Linked DNA regions of Homo sapiens: all the other regions are linked to region 1. Evidence: fine-mapped expression QTL. A gene starts in region 1. Each other region holds a variant in brackets. All regions are shown on one strand. Distances are from middle to middle. Region 1 holds the start of CCNT1 (cyclin T1). Region 2 has its middle 24 kb from the start of SNORA2C. Region 3 has its middle 32 kb from the start of SNORA2C.

The links. PIP is the estimated chance that this variant, and not a neighbour inherited with it, causes the effect.
Region 2: its variant is the best candidate, but not a certain one, in a credible set for the expression of CCNT1 in whole blood (INTERVAL, PIP 0.83).
Region 3: its variant is the best candidate, but not a certain one, in a credible set for the expression of CCNT1 in fibroblasts (GTEx, PIP 0.63).

Annotation. Positions count from the first base shown.
Region 1 is chr12:48,712,139-48,719,677 of GRCh38, reverse strand. CCNT1 (cyclin T1) reads left to right here and starts at 2,971. Exons shown (of 9, transcript NM_001240.4): 1 at 2,971-3,163; 2 at 5,154-5,235. The coding sequence starts at 3,003. RefSeq lists enhancers at 2,217-2,456, 1,856-2,856, 2,927-3,206.
Region 2 is chr12:48,626,752-48,634,290 of GRCh38, reverse strand. It overlaps the pseudogene OR11M1P. Among named protein-coding and RNA genes, the nearest start is that of SNORA2C, 24 kb to the left of the region's middle. The variant A/G (reference allele first, on the strand shown) is at 4,054.
Region 3 is chr12:48,618,335-48,625,873 of GRCh38, reverse strand. No RefSeq gene overlaps it. Among named protein-coding and RNA genes, the nearest start is that of SNORA2C, 32 kb to the left of the region's middle. The variant C/T (reference allele first, on the strand shown) is at 3,357.

The sequences.
Region 1 (7,539 bases):
TTCTCCCATTTGGCATGGTTGTATTTACCCAATGCCTGTACCACCATTGTATCTATGAAGTAACTAACTTGCTTTTGATTTTACAGGCTCATAGGTGGAAGGAACTTGCTTGTCTCGGATGAGACTTTGGACTGTGGACTTCTGAGTTAATGCTGAAATGAGTTGAGACTTTGGGGGACTGTGGGGAAGGCATGACTGTATTTTGAAATGTGAGGACATGAGATTTGGGAGGGGCTGGGGGCGGAATGATATGGTTTGGCACTGTGTCCCTACCCAAATCTCATCTTGAATTGCAACTCCCACAATTTCCACATATGGTAGGAGGAACCCGGTGGGAGGTGATTGAATTATGGGGGTGGGTCTTTCCTGTGCTGTTCTCATGATAGTGAATGAGTCTCATGAGATCTGATGGTTTTAAAAAAATGGGAGTTTGCCTGCACAAGCTCTCTGTTTGCCTGCTGTCATCCATGTAAGATGTCACTTGCTCCTCCTTGCCTTCCGCCATGATTGTGAGGCTTCCCCAGCCACGTGGAACTGTGAGTTCTCCATTAAACTTCTTTCCTTTGTAAATTGCCCAGTCTTGGGTTTGTCTTTATCAGCAGCGTGAAAATGGACTAACACAGCTGTTCAAAAGATAACATACATGACTACATAACTGAAAAAGTGCTTATTCTACTAAAAAATCTATTTTGTAAGTGCTTATTCTCTTAATAGTAAAGAGTCTGTGAGGGAAGAAATTTGAAATCCCAAGTTCTTTTACTTTATAACTAGAAGTAAGTCATTTAAATCTTCCTGAACCTCAATTTCTCCAGGGTAAAATGGAGCTAATACTAACTACAGGCAGTATATGGCAGAGGTGACCTGAATGGAAAGAAATACTTCTGAGAATGAATGACAATCAAGCATAGTAAGATCACCCATGCCTAGAAATGACAAAACCCAAAATATTATCAAAGCAAGATGAAGGATTCTAATATTATCCAAATCTATCTAAAATTACCCATATTTAATCAAGGTAAACTGAATATGGTTCCAGAAAAGCAGGAATACAGCTTGCGTGAATGGAAAGATCAATGGAATTAGATTTAAGATCTACACTTATTAGTGGTGTAGTGAGGGCAAACTCCCAAAGCCTCAGTTTCTGTATTGTGGGTGTTTTGCACATTTATCTGACAAAGATTTATGGACTATTTACTAGGGCCAGGGCTTTACTAGGTAAGTGCCATACAAAAATGAAGGCATTGCTCTTGCCTTCAATTTCAATACAATGTAACAAATATTATAACAATAAGGGCTACTGAATATTTTCTAAGTACTAGGTACTATTATAAATACTTTTTACTCATTAAATCTTTACTCCCTTTCACTATCTAAAACATAGGTATTATCACAGAAAAGAGGCATAGAGAAGTTAACTATCTTGCCCAGCACCAAACAGTTATCAGAGGCTGGAGCTGGGATGTATCTTTTTTTTTTTTTTTTTTTTTGAGAAGGAGTCTCGCAATGTTGCCCAGGCTGGAGTGCAGTGGCGCGATTTCGGCCCACTGCAACTTCTGCCTCCCGGGTTCAAATGATTCTCCTGCCTCAGCCTCCCGAGTAGCTGGGAGTACAGGCGTGCGCCACCACGCCTGGCTAATTTTTGTATTTTCAGTAGAGATGAGGTTTCACCATGTTGGCCAGGCTGGTCTCGAACTCCCGACTTCAGGTGATCCACCCGCCTTGGCCTCCCAAAGTGCTGGGATTATAGGCTTGAGCCACCGCGCCCGGCAAAGGAGCTGGGAAATATTTTGACAGAGGGCAAGAACTTGCTAATCTGTGCAAGTGAGGGGTAGTGGTGGAGGCTTTCCACACTCAAGGGGCAGTTTTAGTTCACCCATTCGCAAACGTACTTAAAAATTACCTCTTAGAGTTGTGCTGAATAAATGAAACAGTATATTTAAGTCAGTATTGTGCCTGGGACATGTAAGCTCTTAATTAATGTTATTAATTTCATTTTATTCCTTTAAGTTGGATCACTGGCGAACAACGTGAGAATGTTTTCATGCCTTTGGCTACACATTAAAGCGACCTCTCCAAATGGGTTGTCGCATTTTACATTGCTACCAACAATGTAACAGCCTTCTAGTTGCTTTATGCTCCGATATACGAAAGAGCCCCACCATTTGATTCTGTTTTTCAGTTTCTGACAGCCTCACCTACTTTCTCTTTCAAGTTCATCTGCCACATTTTTACTTATTTTATTTTTTTGAGACGGAGTCTCGCTTTCTCACCCAGGCTGGAGGCTGGGGTGCAGTGGCGTGATCTCGGCTCACTGCGATCTCCGCCTCCCGGGTTCAAGCGATTCTCCTGCCTCAGCTTCCCGAGTAGCTGGGACTACAGGCGCGCGACACCACGCCGGCTAATTTTGTATTTTTAGTAGAGACGGGGGTTTCACCATATTGGCCAGGCTGGTCTCGAACTCCTGACCTCGTGATCCGCCCGCTTCGGGCTCCCAAAGTGCTGGGATTACAGGCGTGAACCACCGCGCCCGGCCCATCTGCCCCATTTTACATCACCACTGCCGTCACAAACAAAGTTCTCGTAAGAACCGCCAAGCGGCGCGTGGGCGGCCGCCCCATCCCACTATAATTGCGGCCTCGCAGCCTGACCCGGGGCGCCAACGCTCAATCCGGTTCTCGCGGGAAGATACACGGTTTTTAAGAAAGAACTTCTAACCCCACTCCACCGCCCAACGGTCACGTGACGCGCCTGCGTCCTCGCCTCAAGGTTTTTTCTGGTCGCATATTGGCTGTTAACTCGGCTACGGGGTGTAGCGAGGTGCATTCCGGAAGTAGGTCCTTTGACTTTTGCTTCCTCTACGGAGGCAAGTAACAACCCGGCGGTCGACGCTTAGCGGAAGTTCGTCAAGTCGCAGTTGCCCCCGCACAGCGGATGTGGGTCGCCTCTTAGGTGACGCTGGGAAGTGCCTGCAGCCTTCGCCGCTGCCTTCTGGTTGAAGCACTATGGAGGGAGAGAGGAAGAACAACAACAAACGGTGGTATTTCACTCGAGAACAGCTGGAAAATAGCCCATCCCGTCGTTTTGGCGTGGACCCAGATAAAGAACTTTCTTATCGCCAGCAGGCGGCCAATCTGCTTCAGGACATGGGGCAGCGTCTTAACGTGTATCCTTGTGGCCTAGGCCTTCGGCCTTGGAGTTGGTCCCGCCATGCTCTGGCGTCCGGGTCTCAGGCTCTGTGGGGGGGACGAAAGTGGGGAAGAAGGTGGGCAGAAGCTGGATGTCTAGTTGGGAGAGCCCACGATGGGGCGGGCTGAAACTCAGTTAGCGCTAGGGAAGCGAGGCAGAGTTGATTTCCCGCTCGCTCACCCGTGCCGCCAGCCTTGCTGGGAATTCGTATCCTTCCCGGCTTTGTGTTTTAACCAGCCCTTCCAACTCTGTCTTCATTGTGTTCTGATCTGCTCTGGTGACGTTAAGATTCTCATTTTCCGCTGTGCCCTAGGGGTCTAGGTCTGGCAGAGGTTTCTCTGTTGACGGCTGCCTCCCAAACCTAGTGTGTAAATTTCGAGAAATTCAGTACCTGAAAGTGTTATAAAGGGTGGACTAGAATTAATGCCTCAGCCTTGGTCCAAAATCCATTCCTCATCTACTAGCTGTTTAAGTGACCTCTCAAATTTTTGGCCGTCTTGTCTATAAAATGGGATAATACCTCTTGTGTTTGATTCTGTGTCCAGCACAGTGCTTTGCATTCAGATGCTCAGTTAGTAGCTACTGTTTTATAGAATTTCAGAGGAAAGATGTTAGTTTACGTTTGTAGGGGATACCCACGAATCTAATGTTTTAAATAGTTTACAAAATACCGGGTCCTTAACTTACTTAGAGTGATGATATGTATTTCATTTTCAAAAATGAGGTAACGGCTGGATGCGGTGGCTCACGCCTGTAATCTCTGCACTTTGGGAGGCCGAGGCGGGTGGATCACCTGAGGTCAGGAGTTCGAGACCAGCCTGGCCAACATGATTAAACCCCTGTCTCTACTAAAAATACAAAAAATTACCCCGGCGTAGTGGCGGGCAGCTGTAATCCCAGCTAGTCAGGAGGCCGACGCAGGAAAATCGCTTGAACCCGGGAGGCGGAGGTTGCAGTTAGCCGAGATGGCGCCACTGCACTCCAGCTTGGGCAACAATAGTGAAACTCCGTCTCAGAAAAAAAAAATTAAAAAAAAAATGAGGTAACCTCTCCCACATATTTTTGTTTGTTAGGAAATACACTTATTTTATGGTGGAGAAAACTAGTATAGTTTTAAATTTCTTTCCACTCTGCGTGTGAAAATTTTCTTGGGTGCAGCTTCTATTTAAATGTGTGGCTGACAGTAATGTGTGTATCTTAAGGGTGTGTTCATCTCAAAATGGGTGTCTGTTTTATCGCCAGTTTGTTTCCTGCTGATGTCCAGGTTTGTTTCCTAAGCATCCTGTCAGTATGGAGTTAAATCTTTTTGTTCGAAATTCTATTTCAGTGCATCCTTAAAATGCTTTCCTTTTTGTATGTGTGTTGTCATTAAGGTTGTCAGCCAGGCGCGGTGGCTCGCGCCTGTAATACCAGCACTTTCGGAGGCCAAGGCAGGTCGATCAGTTGAGGCCAGGAGTTCAAGACCAGCCTGGCCAACATGGTGAAACCATGTCTCTACTAAAAATACAAAAAGTAGCCAGGTCTGTTGGTGGGCGCCTGTAATCTCAGCTACTGGGGAAGCTGAGGCAGGAGAATCGCTTGAATTTGGGAGGTAGAGGTTTCAGTGGGCCAAGATGGTGCCACCGCACTCCAGTGTGGGCGACAGAGTGTGAGCCACCGCGCCTGGCCGCCTTATATAGTTTTTAAAAAAATCTGTCTAGATTCATACATCCTGAGATGTTTGTTTATTCATTCAGTACATTTATATTAAATATTTGTTATGTGTAAGGCATTGTGCTAAGTGTCAGTTGGCGATTAATAATTTGGTGAAAGAAAACAGACATATTCTTTGATTTGGAGAGATAAGTATGATTTTCATTTAGTAGTATCTACTTGCTTGGCCATTTCATCCTTTTGGGAGGGAGATAGAGGTTATCTTTTCCAGAATTATACCTGCCTGTTTTTGGATCTTAACTTGAACACTTCAGCTCACAATTGACTATCAACACTGCTATAGTATACATGCATCGATTCTACATGATTCAGTCCTTCACACAGTTCCCTGGAAATGTAAGTATAATTTTTTTATATGATATAATCCTTTTGTGATTGATTCCACCTACCTATTCCATTTGTGGTTGGTCTTTGCTACTGAACTGTAACTTGAACTTTAGAATTTAGGGTTGATCACTTCCATTATGTGCTGTGTTGCTGTTCTGAATCCAGCTTTTCAGTTTTCCTGTTAAGTGTCTACTTGTCTAGTGGATTTAGTATATCCATGTCGATTCTCTAAAGAAGTAGATTAGGCCGGGTGCAGTGGCTCACAACTGTAATCCCAGCACTTTGAGAGACTGAGATGGGAGGATCACTTGAGCCCAGGAGTTCAAAACCAGCCTGGGCAACATAATGAGACCTCATTTCTACAAAATATCAAAAACAAAAACAAAAAGCAAGTAGCTGGGTGTTGTGGTATGCATCTGTGGTCTCAGCTACTCCAGCAGCTGGCAAGAGGATTGCTTGAACTCAGGGAGTTGAGGATGCAGTGAGCCAAGATTGAGTCGCTTCACTCCAGCCTGGGCATCAGAGTGAGACCCTGTCTTCAAAAAAAACCCCAAAAAACAGATTATCAGACATCTAAAGTCAACATTTTGGGGTTGGAGGAGTAACATTAAAGGGGAAATCATGTGGAATTTAGGTATAGCTTTCTTTTTCTTGCTGGGGTAGGGAGACAGGCAGGGTCTTGCCCTGTTGTCCATGGTGGAATGCAGTGATTTGATTATGGCTCATTGCAGCCTTAACCTTCTGGGCTCAAGCAGTCCTCCTGCCGTAGCCTCCCAAGTAACTGGGACCACAGGCTTGCCAACATATCTGGTAATTTTTAAAATTTTTTTTGTGAAGATGGGGTCTCCCTGTGTTGTCCAGCCTGGTCTCAAACTCCAGGGTTCAAGGGATCCTTCCGCCTCCGCCTTCTAAAATGTTGGGATTACAGTCATGAGCCGCCATTCCTGGCATTAATTTTGAAGTAGTTTATAAAATATGGTCACAGCAAAAGAAGTAAATGTAAGTTACTTAGATTTTCCAAAAGCCTTTGATAAAATTCCAGTCAGCAGTTGGAGGGGAAAGCACATTATGTAATAATAACTGGGAAAATGACTTTTAAGAACATGAAAAATAGGCTATGCATGGTGGCTCATTCTTATGTATAATCACAGCACCTTGGGAGGTTCAGGTGGGAGGACTGATTGAGCCCAGGAGTTGGAGACCAGCCTGGGCAACACGGTGAGACCCCGTTTCTACAAAAAAAAAAAAAAAGGTAAAAAAAATTTTACAAAGAACAGGAAGAATAAAATTATACTAATAAAGAAATTTTATTTTTTTGTACAGAATTATAAATAGTGATCTTTTCAGTGTAGCTATTTGAAATGGTCCTATTTAACATTATTATAAATGACTTGGAATTGAATGCATAGTGATATCCCAGTTCTAGGAAGGACTGTATTTACTTAATAAAACGCCAAGGTAATAGGGATAAACTTGATGAGTACTTCATATGGATTGATTTTTTTTTTTTTGAGATGGAGTTTCGCTCTTGTTGCCCAGGATGGAGTGCAATGGCACGATCTTGGCCCTTTGCAACCTCCGCCTCGCAGATTCAAGCAATCCTCTTTCCTCAGCCTCCCAAGTAGCTGGGATTACATGCATGTGCCACCACACCTGGCTAATTTTTGTATTTTTAGTAGAGACGAGGTTTCACCACGTTGGCCAGGCTGGTTTTGAACTCCTGACCTCAGGTGATCTGCCCGCCTCAGCCTCCCAAAGTGTTGGGATTACAGGTGTGAGCCACTGCACCGGCTGTATACTTCAAATGGATTTGTGAGTCAAGTATTTCCCTGCTTTTTTTTTTTTTTTTTTTTTTTATTTTTTTTTTTTTTTAAGGAAAAGATTATCCTGCTGGGCACGGTGGCTTAAGCCTATAATCCCACAACTTTAGGAGGCTGAGGCGGGCGGATCACCTGAGGTCGGGAGTTTGAGACCAACATGGAGAAACCCCATCTCTACTAATACAAAAATTAGCCAGGCGTGGAGTTTCATGCCTGTAATCCCAGCTACTCAGGAGGCTGAGGCAATCACTTGAACTGGGGAGGCCGAGGTTGTGGTGAGCCGAGATCGCTATTGCACTTCAGCCTAGGCAACAAGAGCGAAACTCCATCTCAAAAAGAAAAAGATTATGCTTTTGAGGATGCTTATTTCGTATCCTTAGAATGGTGGGTTTTCAGATTTATTATTACTTTTTTAATGCTGTAGAAAGAGAGTTTATGAAGCTAGACATAGCTCCTGAAATGTAAGAAACTGGCAGAAACAGTATTGGGAGTA
Region 2 (7,539 bases), 85 kb after region 1:
TAATTCATTCTACCCAAGGAGGGGACAGAATTCTTTTTTTTTTTTTTTTTTTTAAGATGGAGTCTCACTCTATTGCCCAAGCTGGAGTGCAGTGGTGTGATCTTGGCTCACTGCAGCCTCTGCCTCCTGGGTTCAAGCAATTCTCCTGCCTCAGCCTCCTGAGTAGCTGGGATTATAGGCCCACAGCACCACGCCTGGCTAATTTTTGTGTTTTTAGTAGAGACGGGGTTTTGCCATGTTGGCCAGGCTGGTCTTGAACTCCTGATCTCTGGTGACCCACCCACCTTGGCCTCCTAAAGTGCTGGGATTACAGGCGTGAACCACCATGCCCAGTCCGGACAGGATTCCTGGATAGTTGTGAGCCACCTTGCTGCTTCCTGGAATGTGGAGATATAGAGAACTTCCTCTAGGAGATTTGGGAGATAATTAGCCCTAGTATAGAGCTGTGTAACACTAATGCTATAGTACAAGCTGGCCTCTCTTTATTTCCTCTTCACTTTATTTTCCTGTTCTTCCACTCCTTCCTTCTCCTACTGGGAACCCTCAGCTGGGACTTAACCATGGTGTGTTGCCAACAAGACAAGGAAAGTATTTGAGCCAGCAGTTGTAGCAGCAGCAGCGACAGCAACAGCAGCGACAGCAACAGCAGCAGAAATGATGAAATCCATCAGAGAAGGAGGCAGCTGCAGGAGCAGCAAGGCAGTGATAGTGCCAATTGGGGAATGATTTCTGTAACACGGAGGGTATGGCAAGGGTCAAATAAGATCTAGTGTCTGAAAGTGCTTTATAAACTGTTAAAAGACAATGAATCAGGAGATAAAATGAGAAACGCTTTTCATTTTAGTTTCAGCTGAGTCCTAAAGACAATAGACAGATGCCACATTCCAAAGTAAAACGTAAAGTGGCCAGGCATGGTGGCTCACATCTGTAATCTCAGCACTTTGGGAGGCCTAGGTGGGTGGATTGCTTGAGGTCAGGAGTTTGAGACCAGCTCGGCCAACGTGGTGAAACCCCATTTCTATTAAAAATACAAAAATTAGCCAGGTGTGGTGGTGTGCGCCTGTAATCCCAGCTACTCGGGAGGCTGAGACAGGAGAATTGCTTGAGCCTGGGAGGTAGAGGTTGCAGTGAGCTGAGATCGCGCCACTGCACTCCAGCCTGGGTGACAGAGAGCAAGACTCCATCTAAAAATAAATAAATAAAATAAAAAATAAATAAAATATATTTTAATAAAGAGAATGGTGGAGATGCAAAATGGAAAGAACCTGGGTTTCTGAATGTCTTTGTGGAATAAAGGAGCCTGTCTACCCATCTTAGACTATTGTGAGAGACAAATAAATGTCTAGCACCATATTTTTGGGACTTTCTTACAGCAGTTTAGTTATTTCCCTAAGCTCATCACCCTGATATTCTGCCAATCTTTCCCTGTCTGTAAATCAAACCTCTCCCACAATTTCCTTCTGTTTCCTCTTGAGTCTCCTTCTGGTGATGGAGAATAAGATTAACCCTCTCCAATAAATGAATTTTATAAGAGCTGGCATTTTGAGAGCTAGCATCTAGAATGCCATATTCAGCTGTCAATTTTAGCCCAATCTGGATGACCCTCAGGAATTTCTGAGACAATAATTTTCCTTAATCATCTTTCCAGAGGAGATATAGGAAACTTCAGTGGTGGGCTTGGAGAGAATGGGATATCCAGCTGTTTATATCATGTAGGAAAGGCTCCATCTTGACCCAGTCCTTAAGCATTCTGCTTGAGACAGGTGAACTTGAGTAACTTTTATTTTGGAGGCAGAGATGGGGGAAGATTCAGAACTTCAAAGAACCTTGAGAAATTACCCCATCTTCTGGGCTACCTTCTCCAAGAGCCATGTTTAAACAGTCTCACAGCTTACAGCTGGTCAGGTATTTAGACAAATCTTTGGCTTTGCAGTGTTTTACCCAGGCTGCCTTAAGGATAGAGAAATAAAGTATAGATCAGAGGCAGGGGCAGAAGTCTGAAAGGGGCTCAGCTGAGGGAAAGTTGGGCTTGCGGGCTGGAGCCAATTTATGCTGTTGGAGAGTCCCAGGTGAAGAGGATGCATGTGGGTGCTGCCATGATGCCTGGGATGAATGCATCACATGATTACTCTGCCTCATTTTCTCATCAGGGGAACATTCTCAACCCTCTCCCAAAGCCCATGGCAAATCCTGCAGCACAGATGCCACTAACATCAGTAGCCCAGATATTATCTGCCCCTCTCCCACCAAACCCCACTGGCAGAACAGTTGCTCTCTGCCCTTCACATTCCTCTTACCAGGCAGATATCACTTTAGGATCTTACACAGTCCTCTTGGCAGTTTGTCATCACCAATGTTATCATCAATAAACTCTGAAAGGACAAGTGGATGAGTGGGGAGGGAAATCTCTCTTTTTCTATTTTGAATTATTGATCATTTTTAGAGGGGAATTCCCAGAGGAAAGTGAATCCTGAGATTCAGAAATCCTTTCTCTCTGGAGCTCCTCTCTGGGTTTGCCTTCCATTTTGCCTGGGTTTTCTTGTTTTTGCTTAGACTCCTTCTCTGAGCACTGGTCCTTCCAGAAGGCATCTAGGACATGATGGACTAGGGAGAGCTTTTGTTTTCGGGAAGCTGCTCAGAATGTCTGGAGTGCTGGTATGTGGGATGATGTGTGTACTAGGAGCAGATAACATGTCTTGAAGGGTGGGAACCCATGAATGGGGAAGATGAAAAGGAGATTGTGAATCAGGGGGCTTAGCCAGGGGCCAGTCTTTCTTCCTTCTTTTTGTCAGGATGATCTCTGTGGGATCTTGTTTCAGTGTGAGGACTGTTTATTCCCCATATTCAGCTTCCCCAGCACAGGCTGACAGTCAGGTGATAGGGAGCAGTGCATTCAGTTTTGCACCTATTTTACCTGCTCCCACTTCATCCAGCCCTCAGAGGGATAGAGTCCTTACTGCTGCACATTAGGTTGCAGGCATTTTCTGAGGAATGCTTGTGGTCTTTGTATCAGAAGTTGTTCAGCTGGAAAATCCCGTTGTCACTACTGCCATCAGCAGTTTTTTCCATTAAAGGCCTGGGTGTTCAAATTACTCTCACACTGAACCAAGCAGATCCCTGTGTCAGAGAGAGCAAAAGGTATGGATAGAAAAGGGAGAGTGCTCCATGATGAGAGGTCATCCAATAGGCCATGGGAAAGATGAGACATAACTTATGCTGTACTAGTGCTATCTGAAATGAAAATCCATTTTTAAGACTGAGTTGAGGCCGGGTGCAGTGGCTCACCCCTGTAATCCCAGCACTTGGGGAGGCCAAGGCGGGCAGATCACCTGAGGTCAGGAGTTCGAGATCAGCCTGGCCATCATGGTGAAACCCCGTTTCTACTAAAAATACAAAAAAAAATTAGCCGGGTGTGATGGCAGGCGCCTGTAATCCCAGCCACTCGGGAGGGTGAGGCAGGGGAATGACTTGAACTCGAGAGGCAGAGGTTGCAGTGAGCCGGATGGTGCCATTGCACTCCAGCCTGGGCAATAAGAGTGAAACTCCATCTCAAAAAAAAAAAAAAAGAAAAGAAAAAAAAAAAGACTGAGTTGAAAAAACTATGAGATCCTCAATGTCAGAGATCATTTATAATTCATATGCACTCCCAGTCCTAAGCAATAATTAGCCCATGGAAAATATACAACAATTTATTAAATGCTTTTATTAATAAATTTAGAATTTTATTCCAAATAAAATAATAATTATAATTATAATAAATTTATTAATTTGGAATTTTATTCCAAATAAATCCAAAATTATTTGGTGTCATTTTATGGAATTAAAATTGGAATGACCAGTAATCAATCAATCACAGTCTGTTTCCCAATCAACCTTTCCAGCCTCATCTCCCAGCCAAATACTCACTTGTATATATTCACTTTTGTTCTATATCCCAAGGTACATGCAAGAGAAAAGGTGGAAAGGTAGCGGAGGAGAATCCTTGGAAGGCAGCACAGAAAAACCATCCTTGGAAGGTTTCTCTACATGAGAAAGAGTAGGTTTGGCATGGAG[A/G]AAAATGAAGAAAGATATTCAAGGGAAGTTGAAATAGTTTCATTTCTTGTAACCAATAAGATGGATGGCTGAGATTCTCAATCCCTCTTGTTACCCTCATCATCACTTCCCCTTCATTCTTACAATCCCAATCTAACTCTCTTGTGGCACTAGTAGAATAACCCTGATAAAAACTTAGCTGATGTTCACTTGATTTAGAACTTTTCTGATCAAGTAAGAATTTAGTAGGCTTCTTATCTATTGCATTTCTAGAAACAGTATGCCATAGGTCTGTGTGAGTCCGGCTATTCTGATTGCTGATTTGACTCTGCTGTCCATTGTGGCAACCATGTACACCTTGCCTTTGGAGGTTGAGTGCTGCCACTTGGCCTCTGCCATCTCAGGATGCAGTCACTCCCATTGAATGTAGGTTTCCCAATTCAGTGACTGCAGTCCTCACCGTAAGGTCTGGGCTACAGTGAAGAGAGATTACAGAGCTCTTCAAGGATGCCGGGGCTTCCCTATTTCTTAGTCATAGTGAAAAGTATGTCTTCTGGGCCCTCTCACATGGGTAAGTAGGTCTTAAGTAACAAATCCACTCTAATATTTCAATATCCTTTAGCCGTTGAATCCTTTCTCTACATTAAATCAAGGCAGATCCAGCATTTCTAATTCACTTACTGTATCCCACCTTTTGGTTCATGTTTCAGTCAACCAACTAAACAAACTGTTAGAATCCTTCCTAGTTCCCCAAGCTGCAACATTAAATGCAGAATTTCTGCTTTAGTGAGCCTTGAAGGGAGAGTGAAGGGAAGGAAACCCAGATATTGCAGCTCCCCGAAGCCCACTAGGATCAGCCAGGTGGTCTGGTTCCCACTGTCACAAATGTATATCAATACATTCGGCTTTATTCAACTTTACGTTCCTTCCATCATCATCCCACAATTTCAAGATCTATTTCCATGCATGTTCACTGGATTTCTGTCTGTATAAATTAGAAAACCCAAGTAATTCTTTTGGATTGTAGTGCATGTCCTCATGGGTCACACTTTGTGCTCACCTTTAGAGGCCTGCAGGGACTTGGGTCTAGCTATAGTTTTAGAACCAAAGAGGAGTGATGGGTATGGGTTCTGAGGAGAATCAGCATTGTCTTGCATGGGAACTGCCCCAGGGGAGGCAATTACAGTTTCTTCAGGCAATGTGGGATTAATTCCCTCAGACAGGGACAGAGGCTGCTGTCGCTGGGGTTGGGGAAGCTGCTACCACTGGGGATAGGGAGGCCAATTCCAATTGGAAAATACAGTTACCTCATTTTGGTAGACATCCATTTTCAATCCCACAGTCTCCATCTTTTTATTGCAGTGGTCTCTAGTCCATCAGACTTTGAGGAAGGGGCTAAGCTGAAATCAATCCAGGAAGAAGTCAAAAGCTGTCCTGTCCTCCTTAGTGAGTGTGTCCTGGGATGAGCTGTCCCCTGAGCCTATGCAGAGCCCCCTTCACCTCTTGGTTCTTGAGGCTGTGGATGATGGAGTTGACCATGGGAGTGAACACTGTGTAGAGGACAGAGAAGACCTTTAGAAGCAAGGGGACATGTGTTCTATTGGGGCCACATAGACCACAATGAGGGTGCCATAAAATACCCCAACTACGGTGAGGTGGGAGGAACAGGTGAAGAAGGCTTTCTGCCTCTCATGGCCTGAGGGTATTTGCAGTACAGCCCTCAATGAAGGCAGAGGATGCCACAATCAGTAGGAAGGCGGCCAGTGTCAGGAAGCCTGAGATGCTGACTTCAGCTCCCTACATGACTCCCACATCCCCGCAGAACTGCCTGACTACTGGAGCAAACTCACAGAAATAGTGGTCAATCTCCCTGCTGCCAGGACAGAGGTGCTGCCAGGGCCATAGTGAAGGCAGAGGAGAAGAAGCCACTGAACCAAGCACCAGCGGCCAGGCAGTGACAAAACCAGGTGCTCATCAGGGCAGGATAGTGAAGGGGGCAGCAGATGGCCAAGTAACAGTCATAGGACACGGCAGATAGCAGGAGGCACTCAGCTGCAGCCAGCGAGGAAAACACGTAGAACTGAGCCAGACAGCTGACTAGAGAGATGACTTCCTTCCCCTCCAAGAAACTCTGCAACAGCCATAGTATGACGTTGGAGGTATAGCCAATCTCCAGCAGGGAGAAGTGGCAGAGGAAGAAGTACATTGGTGGGTGCAGTGTCCGACTAGAGGCCACAGCCAGCATGATGAGGGCATTGCCCCCAACTGTCACCACATAGATGGCCAGGAAGAGAGTGAAGGGAAGGAAGCCCAGGTATTGCAGCTCCCCGAAGCCCACTAGGATCAGCCAGGTGGTCTGGTTCCCACTGTCACCACTGGACTGCTTCTTCTTCCAGGTCTGGGCCCAAGAGAAGAGAGGAAGGTAGTTAATATTAACAAAGATACTATTATGGCCACACTCCATGCTTGGCTTATCCATTTACTCATCACAGCACGCATCAGAGACAGGCCTTATTGTCTCCCAGATGTGGAAGAGAAACTAAGACCCGTTTGTTCAAGTCAATTATTCCAGGTCATTATGATGGAGTCATGATGTGAACCCAGGTTTGCCTGACTCTAAGGCTCCCGAATGGTCTACTGTTCTACAGTGCTTTCCCAACCTGCTCCACCCACATTTTTTTTTTTTTTTTGAGATAGGGTCTCACCCAGGCAGGAGTGTAGTGGTGCGATCACAGCTCACTACAGCCTCGACTTCCTGGGCTCAAGCCATCCTCCCACCTCAGCCTCCCAAGTAGCTGGGACTACAAGCACATGCCACCATGCCTGGCTACTTAAAAAAAAATTTAACAGAAATGAAGTCTCCCTATATCGTCCAGGCTGGTCTCAAATTTCTGCGCTCAAGCGATCCTCCCAAAGTTCTGGGATTATAGGCGTGAGCCACTGCATCTGGCCCCAAACGTTTTTTAAGTGATAGAAATGTCAAAATTAGAGAGCAGCATAATGTTCTTCCAATCCGCAGGGAGCTATTTACCTGGAGGTCCCGGCTGGGCACCAACAGGAGGACCACAGCTGGTGAACTGTGGAAGGGTAGGAGGCGTGCGCATCGCCTCTAGGAGAGTTGGTCCTACTCTGAAGTCATGCACGTTCCTGAGGCTGCCACTCATCTCAGACTATTTTTTCTTTCCAAGAAAATGAGACTTGGAAATCCAGATGAGCAATCTATATCATCTATTCAGCAAGATATGCAACACAGAAAGATCTGAATTAACCCAGATCCCACCCCCCTGGGAAACCACTCTTTCTCTTTGGACAGGTGGCCTGGTGACCCTTGGTAAAGCCATTTCCACACTTTGCCCAGTCTCCGATCAGTTTGTTGGAAACTGGAAACACTCTATTTATCTTGGTTCTCCTGCCTTGTATTTTCCATACAGGTCAAATGCTCAGTTTATCTTAACTAACTGTGGGTTCTTTAGAAACTTCTCTTCTGGCGTAGGTTTCCTTCTCTCA
Region 3 (7,539 bases), 94 kb after region 1:
CAATCAGGAGAAAGGAGCAGAGAAAGGGCATGTTAATCTCAGTAAAGCTTCATAAAAAGATGATGACTGTGTGCTTAGAGATAACGCTTTTTTAGCCTGGTGCAGTGGCTCACGCCTGTAATCCCACCACTTTGGGAGGCCGAGGCAGGCGGATCACGAGGTCAGGAGTTCAAGACCAGTCTGACCAACATAGTGAAACCCTGTCTCTACTAAAAATACACAAAAAATTAACCAGGTGTGGTGGTGTGCGCCTGTAATCCCAGCTACTCAGGAGGCTGAGGCAGGAGAATGGCGTGAACCTGGGAGGCGGAGGTTGCAGTGAGCCAAGATCGTGCCAATGCACTCCAGCCTGGGCGACAGAACGAGACTCTGTCTCAAAAAAGAAAAAAAGAAAAAAGATAACGCTTTTAGTTTGGCTACCATACACCAAAATTATTCATTAATGACTAAAAATCTGGAGAAATCTGTCTAGTGAAAAGGAGAATGTGTTGTAGATCTTATCTTCGTCACCTATTTTAGCAATGACTTCAATAGGCATAGTAAGCATGCATGGCTCATCAAACTTCAGATGATATGAAACAAAGAGGGAAAATCAATATTGTAAGCAACAATTATAATTCAAAATAATCTTGCCTTTTGGAATGCCAAACTAAAAACAAGACGGAATTTAACAGAGGCACATATAAAATCTGCATGTAGATTTTAACAACCGGTTACACAAGCATAGGAAGGGTAAGACCCAACTTAGTAGCCAATTATGTGAAAATAATTTGGGCTTTTTGTTGACTATCATGAATTTTTTCTTTTTTTTTTTTTTTGAGATGGATTCTGGCTCTGTCGCCCAGGCTAGAGTGCAGGGTTATGATTTCAGCTCACTGCAACCTCCACCTCCCAGGCTCAACTGATTCTCCTGCCTCAGCCTCCCAAGCAGCTGGAACTGCAGGTGCCCAACACCGAGCCCGGCTACTTTTTTGTATTTTCAGTAGAGACGGGGTTTCACCGTGTTAGCCAGGATGGTCTCCATCTCCTGACCTCGTGATCTGCCCGCCTCGGCCTTCCAGAGTGCTGGGATTACAGGCGTGAGCCACCGCACCCGGCCTGAGTATCATGAATTAGGGCTTGAAAACTGTGAAATACAAGGAATAGATGAAGAATGTAGAGAATCTGGAAAAGACAAAATGAATAGAAGAATATGATAACTGTTTTCAAATATTTGAGAGACTCTTATAAAGAAGAGGAATTACATTTAATTCACAGAACAAGGACCAAGGGTGTGGTGGTGCTGGAAAACCCATGATTACTCATCTGTGCTGGCTTCCTAGAGGTGATTCTTAAGGGGTTAACCATTGTTATTTACTGCATTTTTTGGGGGGTTTGAAAATAAGATGAGGCTCGGGGGACAGGGTCAGTGTGGTGAAGTGGAATTTCTTCCTAGAGCCTCCAGAAGTTTGTTGGCAAATATGGGCCTCATCCACAGGAACCTCCCAGAGCAAACAAACAAACAAAAATGATAAACTCTCTTCTGCATGTTTAGGTTGGGTCAGTGGTGGTCCTCTCTGTAGGCAGAGAGCAGGGTTGACCCATATGAACGCCAGATACTCAAGCTCAGTGAAGATGGGGGCGGACCTGCTTTGGGCTTGGAGTCAACTTCTCTCCTGGACGTCTTTACCCCTAGACTAAATTCTTCTGCCACCTGACAGCTCTGTGGACTTTCTGCTTCTCTCCTGTGGAGTCTCCACATGTTATTGACTCCCTACACCCTAGGGTGCTCACAGAAGACAGTTGTCCCTATTCCGTATGTGCTGCTATGGATGCAACTGCCTTTTCTAGAGGAGGAGAGCGCCCCTCCCTTGTGCAGGTTGGAGAAGAGCCTCCTTGGAGAGGAGATGTAGTTTGGAGCCAACTGGAGCAGCTGCATCTATCTTTTGGTTCCAGGGAAATGTTCAGGTCTACAAGGGACCACATCCATGTGTTTCATTCAAACCTAATTACCTCCCCCTTATGAGTGGGGAAAGACTGGCAAGACATAAGAATAACCATAATAGCCAAATGCTGTGGCTCATGCCTATAACCCCAGCACTTTGGGAGGCTGAAGAGGGAGGATCACTTGAGCCAAAAAGTTCAAGACCAGCCTGGGAAACATAGTAAGACCCCATCTCTACAAAAAAAAAAAAAAAAAAAAAAAATCAGCCAGTCATGGTGGCATATGCCTGTAGTCCCAGCTACTCTGGAGCCTGTGGTGGGAGCTTCGCTTGAGCCCAGGAGGTTGAGGATGCAGTGAGCCATAATTGCACCACTGCACTCCAGCCTGGGTGACCAAAAAGAAAATAGCCACAATGAAAGCCAGCGTTTATGGAATACTTTATAATTCATAAAGCAAATATTAACTGATTAGCTAATTTAATAAATATTCAATTCTCAGAATGAGCCCCAAGGTGAAATGTATGTTATAACTTGTTCTTGCAGCATTGGGATGAGCTATCAAGAGTGTTGAGAGGTGAAGCCAGCTGGATTTCTGGGTCGAGTCGGGACTTGGAGAACTTTTCTAACAAGAGGATTGTAAAATGCACCAATCAGCGCTCTGTAGCTAGGATTGTAAAACGCACCAATCAGCACTCTGTGGCTAGCTAGAGGTTTGTAAAATGTGCCAGTCAGCACTCTGTAAAAACGCACCAATCAGCGCTCTGTGTCTAGCTAAAGGATTGTAAATGCACCAATCAGCACTCTGTGTCTAGCTAAAGGATTGTAAATGCACCAATCAGCACTCTGTGAAATGGACCAATCAGCACTCTGTAAAATGGACCAGTCAGCAGGACATGGGAGAGGCCAAATAAGGGAATAAAAGCTGGCCACCCCAGCCAGCACCGGCAACCCACTCAGGTCCCTTTCCACGCTGTGGAAGCTTTGTTCTTTCACTCTTCACAATAAATCTTGCTGCTGCTCACTCTTTGTGTCTGCACCACCTTTAAGAGCTGTAACACTCGCTGCAAAGGTCCGCGGGTTCATTCTTGAAGTCAGCGAGACCACAGACCCACCAGAAGGAAGAAACTCCAGACACATCTGAAGGAACAAACTCTGGACACACCATCTTTAAGAGCTGTAACACTCACTGTGAAGGTCTGCGGCTTCATTCTTGAAGTCAGCAAGACCAAAAGCCTGCTGGAAGGAACCAACTCTGGACACAGTGTGACCTCTAAGGGCTAAATCAACAGTCTTTCTACCCTGGCCTGGGTTAGGACCCTGGGGTCCCGCTTTGATCTCTTAGCAGGGAGGAGGCAAGAAGAAACTGATATATAACTCTGTAGGTATTCTGTCCTGTTTAGTTGGATAGTTTAACATCACAGATTAACATAAAA[C/T]CAGGTCAGATCCCTTCAAGATAATGGAGACAGACTAAAATGCAGCTGAATGACAAATGTAAATAGGAAATCCCACTGCAGTACTATAGCACCGAGTTTCTTCCATAGCAAGCAGAGAGCAGATCTGGGCCAGGAGGAGGACAGCACAGGCTCTGGGCTGGGGCTGAGATTTTCTAGGAACAGACTGGCATGGCTCTTCCTGGAAAAAACTGGACAAGTGTGTGACATTGGCAGAAGAGAGGCAGAGTAGAGAGTCTTAGGTGTAGAAAAGGTGACTCAGTCTCAAACAAAGTCTCCATAAAGCTTATAATACCTCAATATGAGCAGTAAAACTTCCTGGTCAGTCCTTCAGGATAAACTAGTTTCAAAATGTACTTGTAGATAACTACATGAACTAGTATTCTCAATAAGGCTGTTAGCTAAATCCAGTAAGATGTTGGACGATATGTAATAAAAATAAAGTTTGGCTTTGGAATAACTGATCATCCTAAGCCATCCTTCATGAAGATAATTGGAAAACCAAGCCAACTGTCTTTCAAGACTAATCTTAGATCATGAAAAAAAAAATGTCAACAATACATACACATTATAATAACTCTGCTATTAAAAATTTATTTCTAGTTTTTAATGCACTTTTTATATAGCTATAATTATTATCATATGTACAATTTGAATCCTGATGCTTCACCTAACATTTTATTATAAGCATGTTATATATCCCACATTTAAAATAATAATATAATATTCATTATGTAGCTGTAGCACAATTTGCCTAACCATTTTTTTCAGGGAATCTTTGGGTTGGGAGGGACTGTAAGCTATATATAGGCCAACATTTCACTAAGAGGGGAGGTTATTTATTCTCTTTGTATGTATTTCAACTGAAAAGAAGACAGTGTCTTTTTAGGGTATCTCAGTGTTTCAACAAATTAAAAATTTTAAAACATTTATTTAACATTAGTATTTTTGAGCAATGCATCATTATTGCATACATTTATGGGATACACTATGATATATGTATAAATGTGGCAGGATTAAATCAAGCTAATTAACATATCCATCACCTCACTTACCTATCATTTTTTTTTATGGTGAAGCATTTGAAATTTATGCCCTATTTTGAAATAAATAACACATTATTATTGACCATATTCACGCCACTGTTGCAATAGATCCTAAGACCTATTCTTCCTACCTGAAACTTTGTACCCTTTGATCAACAACTCCCCATTCCCTCCATCTCCACCCCTTTCCCCAAACTCTGGTAACCATCCTTTTAGTTTCTACGTCTGTGAGATCAACTTTATTAGATTTTACATATAAGTGAGATCATGAAGTATTTGTCTTTTTGTGCCTGGCTTATTTCACTTAGCATAATGTCCTACAGATTTATCAACACTGTTGCAAATGATAGGATGTCCCCCCTTTTAAGGCTGAATAGTATTCCATTGTGTATATATGTTACATTTTCTTTATCCATTCACCTGTTGATGGACACTTAGGTTGTTTTCATATCTTGACTGTTGGGAATAATGTTGCCATGAACAGGAGGGCACAGCTATTCCTTTGACATATTTGTTTCAGTTCCTTTGGATATATATCCAGAAGTGGGATTAATGAGTTGTATGGTAATTCTATTTTAGTTTTTTGAGGAACCTCCATATCATTTTTCATAATGGCTTTACTAATTTGCATTCCCACCATCAATATATATGAGTTCCCTTTTCTCCACATCCTCTCCAACACTTGTTATCTTTCATCTTTTTGATAAAAGTCATTCTAACAGGTATGAAGTGATATCTCATTGTGGTTTTAATTTGCGTTTCCCTAATAATTAGTAACGCTGAGCAGTTTTTCATGTATTTATTGGTCATTTATATGACTTTTGAGAAATGTCTGTTCAGGTCCTTAGCCCATTTTTTAATTGGGTTAACTTATAAATAAACGTTTTGGAGCTCCACACATGTTAGGCATTATTGGATGATCAAGACATAGGATCTGCCTGCAGATTAACTATGGTACAGTATGGAATATGTGACAACTGCTACAAAAGAGCTGCATAGTTTATTGAGAAGGGATTAAGGGAAGTTAATGGAGAAAGTGGAATATGCACTAGAATGTAAAACAGTAGAGGTTTTAGAAAGTTAAAAATGAGGGGGCTGGGCATGGTGGCTCAAGCCTGTAATCCCAGCACTTTAGGAGGCCAAGGCGGGTGGATCAGAAGGTCAGGAGATCAAGATCATCCTGGCCAACATGGTGAAACCCTGCCTCTACTAAAAATAGAAAAATTAGCTGGGCTTGTTGGTGGGCGCCTGTAATCCCAGCTACTCAGGAGGCTGAAGCAGAAGAATCGCTTGAACCCGGGAGGCAGAGGTTGTAGTGAGCCAAGATTGTGCCACTGCATTCCAGCTTGGGCGACAGAGTGAGACACCATCTCAAAAAAAAAAAAGAAAGTTAAAAATGAGGGTAAGGTTTTCAGCTTCCACCCATGACGGAGTGACTGGTACCAGTCTAGTCCTCCTGATGTAAACAACTACAAAATGGACAACACATAAAATATCTGTTTCCAGCTACTGGAAAACATATAGCACAGAACCTTAATTCCTTAGAGAAGGGAAGTCCTACCATCACATTAGTTTTTCTGTCTTGACTCACTTTCCAGACCTGGAATCCAGGAGGGCCTAAGCTGAGGAGACAGAGATCAGAGTTTGGAGAGGCAGAGATTGTTTAAATTTGTAGGGCAGAAGAGGAGGGAGGTATAGTGAGAAAGAATTTCAGAAACCTATGTAGGAATCTCATGAGACTTTGGCTGAATATTACTAGGAGCTGTAAGTTAAGTAACCACTAGAACTCATACAGAATGGGAGATGTTAGAGCTCCAACCATTCAGGCTGGAGAGATCTCATTGAAAACTGGGGGTATGCAGCAGATATCTCAGAAAGGTCACACCTTAGGTATAGGTATAAATCAGTCGAAGAATAAAAGCTAATCTAGACCTATTCGAACAAAACTTAAAAACAAAGCTTGAAAAGATTAAACTGAACCTTAAGTATCTTAACTGTCTACTAGAACAAGGCCAAGTGGATCACAAGGTCAGGAGTTTGAGACCAGCCTGACCAATATGGTGAAACACCCTCTCTAGTAAAAATACAAAAATTAGCCGGGCGTGGTGGTGGGCGCCTGTAATCCCAGCTAGTCAGGAGGCTGAGGCAGGAGAATCGCTTGAACCTGGGAGGCGGAAGTTGCAGTGAGCCGAGATCGCGCCACTGCACTCCAGCCTGAGCGACAGAGGATCCATCTCAAAAAAAAAAAAAAAACAAAAAACAACAAAAAAAAAAACCCAAAATCCAGACACGCAACAACAGGATATCCATAATGTCCAGCCTCTAATAGAACGATTAGTAGAAATACAAAGAAGCAGATAAATGTGACCACTAACCAGAGAAAAATGATAAAAGACATGAGCAAGATGGCAGAATAAGAAATTCCAGACCCTCTTTCTTCCATGAGAACATGAACTTAACAATATATAAACCTGTTTGAAGAATCCAGAAATCAGTTAATAGGTTCTTGCCCCTCAGTCGAGTGCGAAGGCAACCCTATCAAAACTTAGCAGGAAAATTTATGACATTCACTCACCCTTCCCTCTGGCACGGCATGACATAATCTGAAGGATACCTCCAACTCTCCACTTCTTCCTGGGAAGGGAAAGGAGTGAAATGTGCACCCAACATTCTGACTTATGAAGATGCTGTTGAGGGAGCTGCCCAAATTTAAGCACTGACAGGAACAGTGCTCAGGTTGGGGCTGGTTAAGGACAAAGGTGATCAACGTGGTTTGTTCCAGCACCAGAATCTGCAGTACCACAGACAAACACTAGGTGGAACTCCAGTACCGCAGCTTTCTACAGCACCCGAGAAGCGGCAGCATTGCAGACAGACACAAGAGCTCCTGAGTAGAAGAAACTGGCAAACATCTTCATTTAGGTTGACTATGGTGAAGCAAATTTTCATATCCATCATCTCATGCAGTTACTCATGGTTTTTGTTTTTGTGGCAAGAGCAGCTAAAATATACTCATTTAGCTTGAATCCCGTATAGAGTACAATTTTATTACCTGTGATCCTCATGTTTTATGTACATTTGATCTCTAGATTCGTTCATCCTATATATCTGCCACTTTG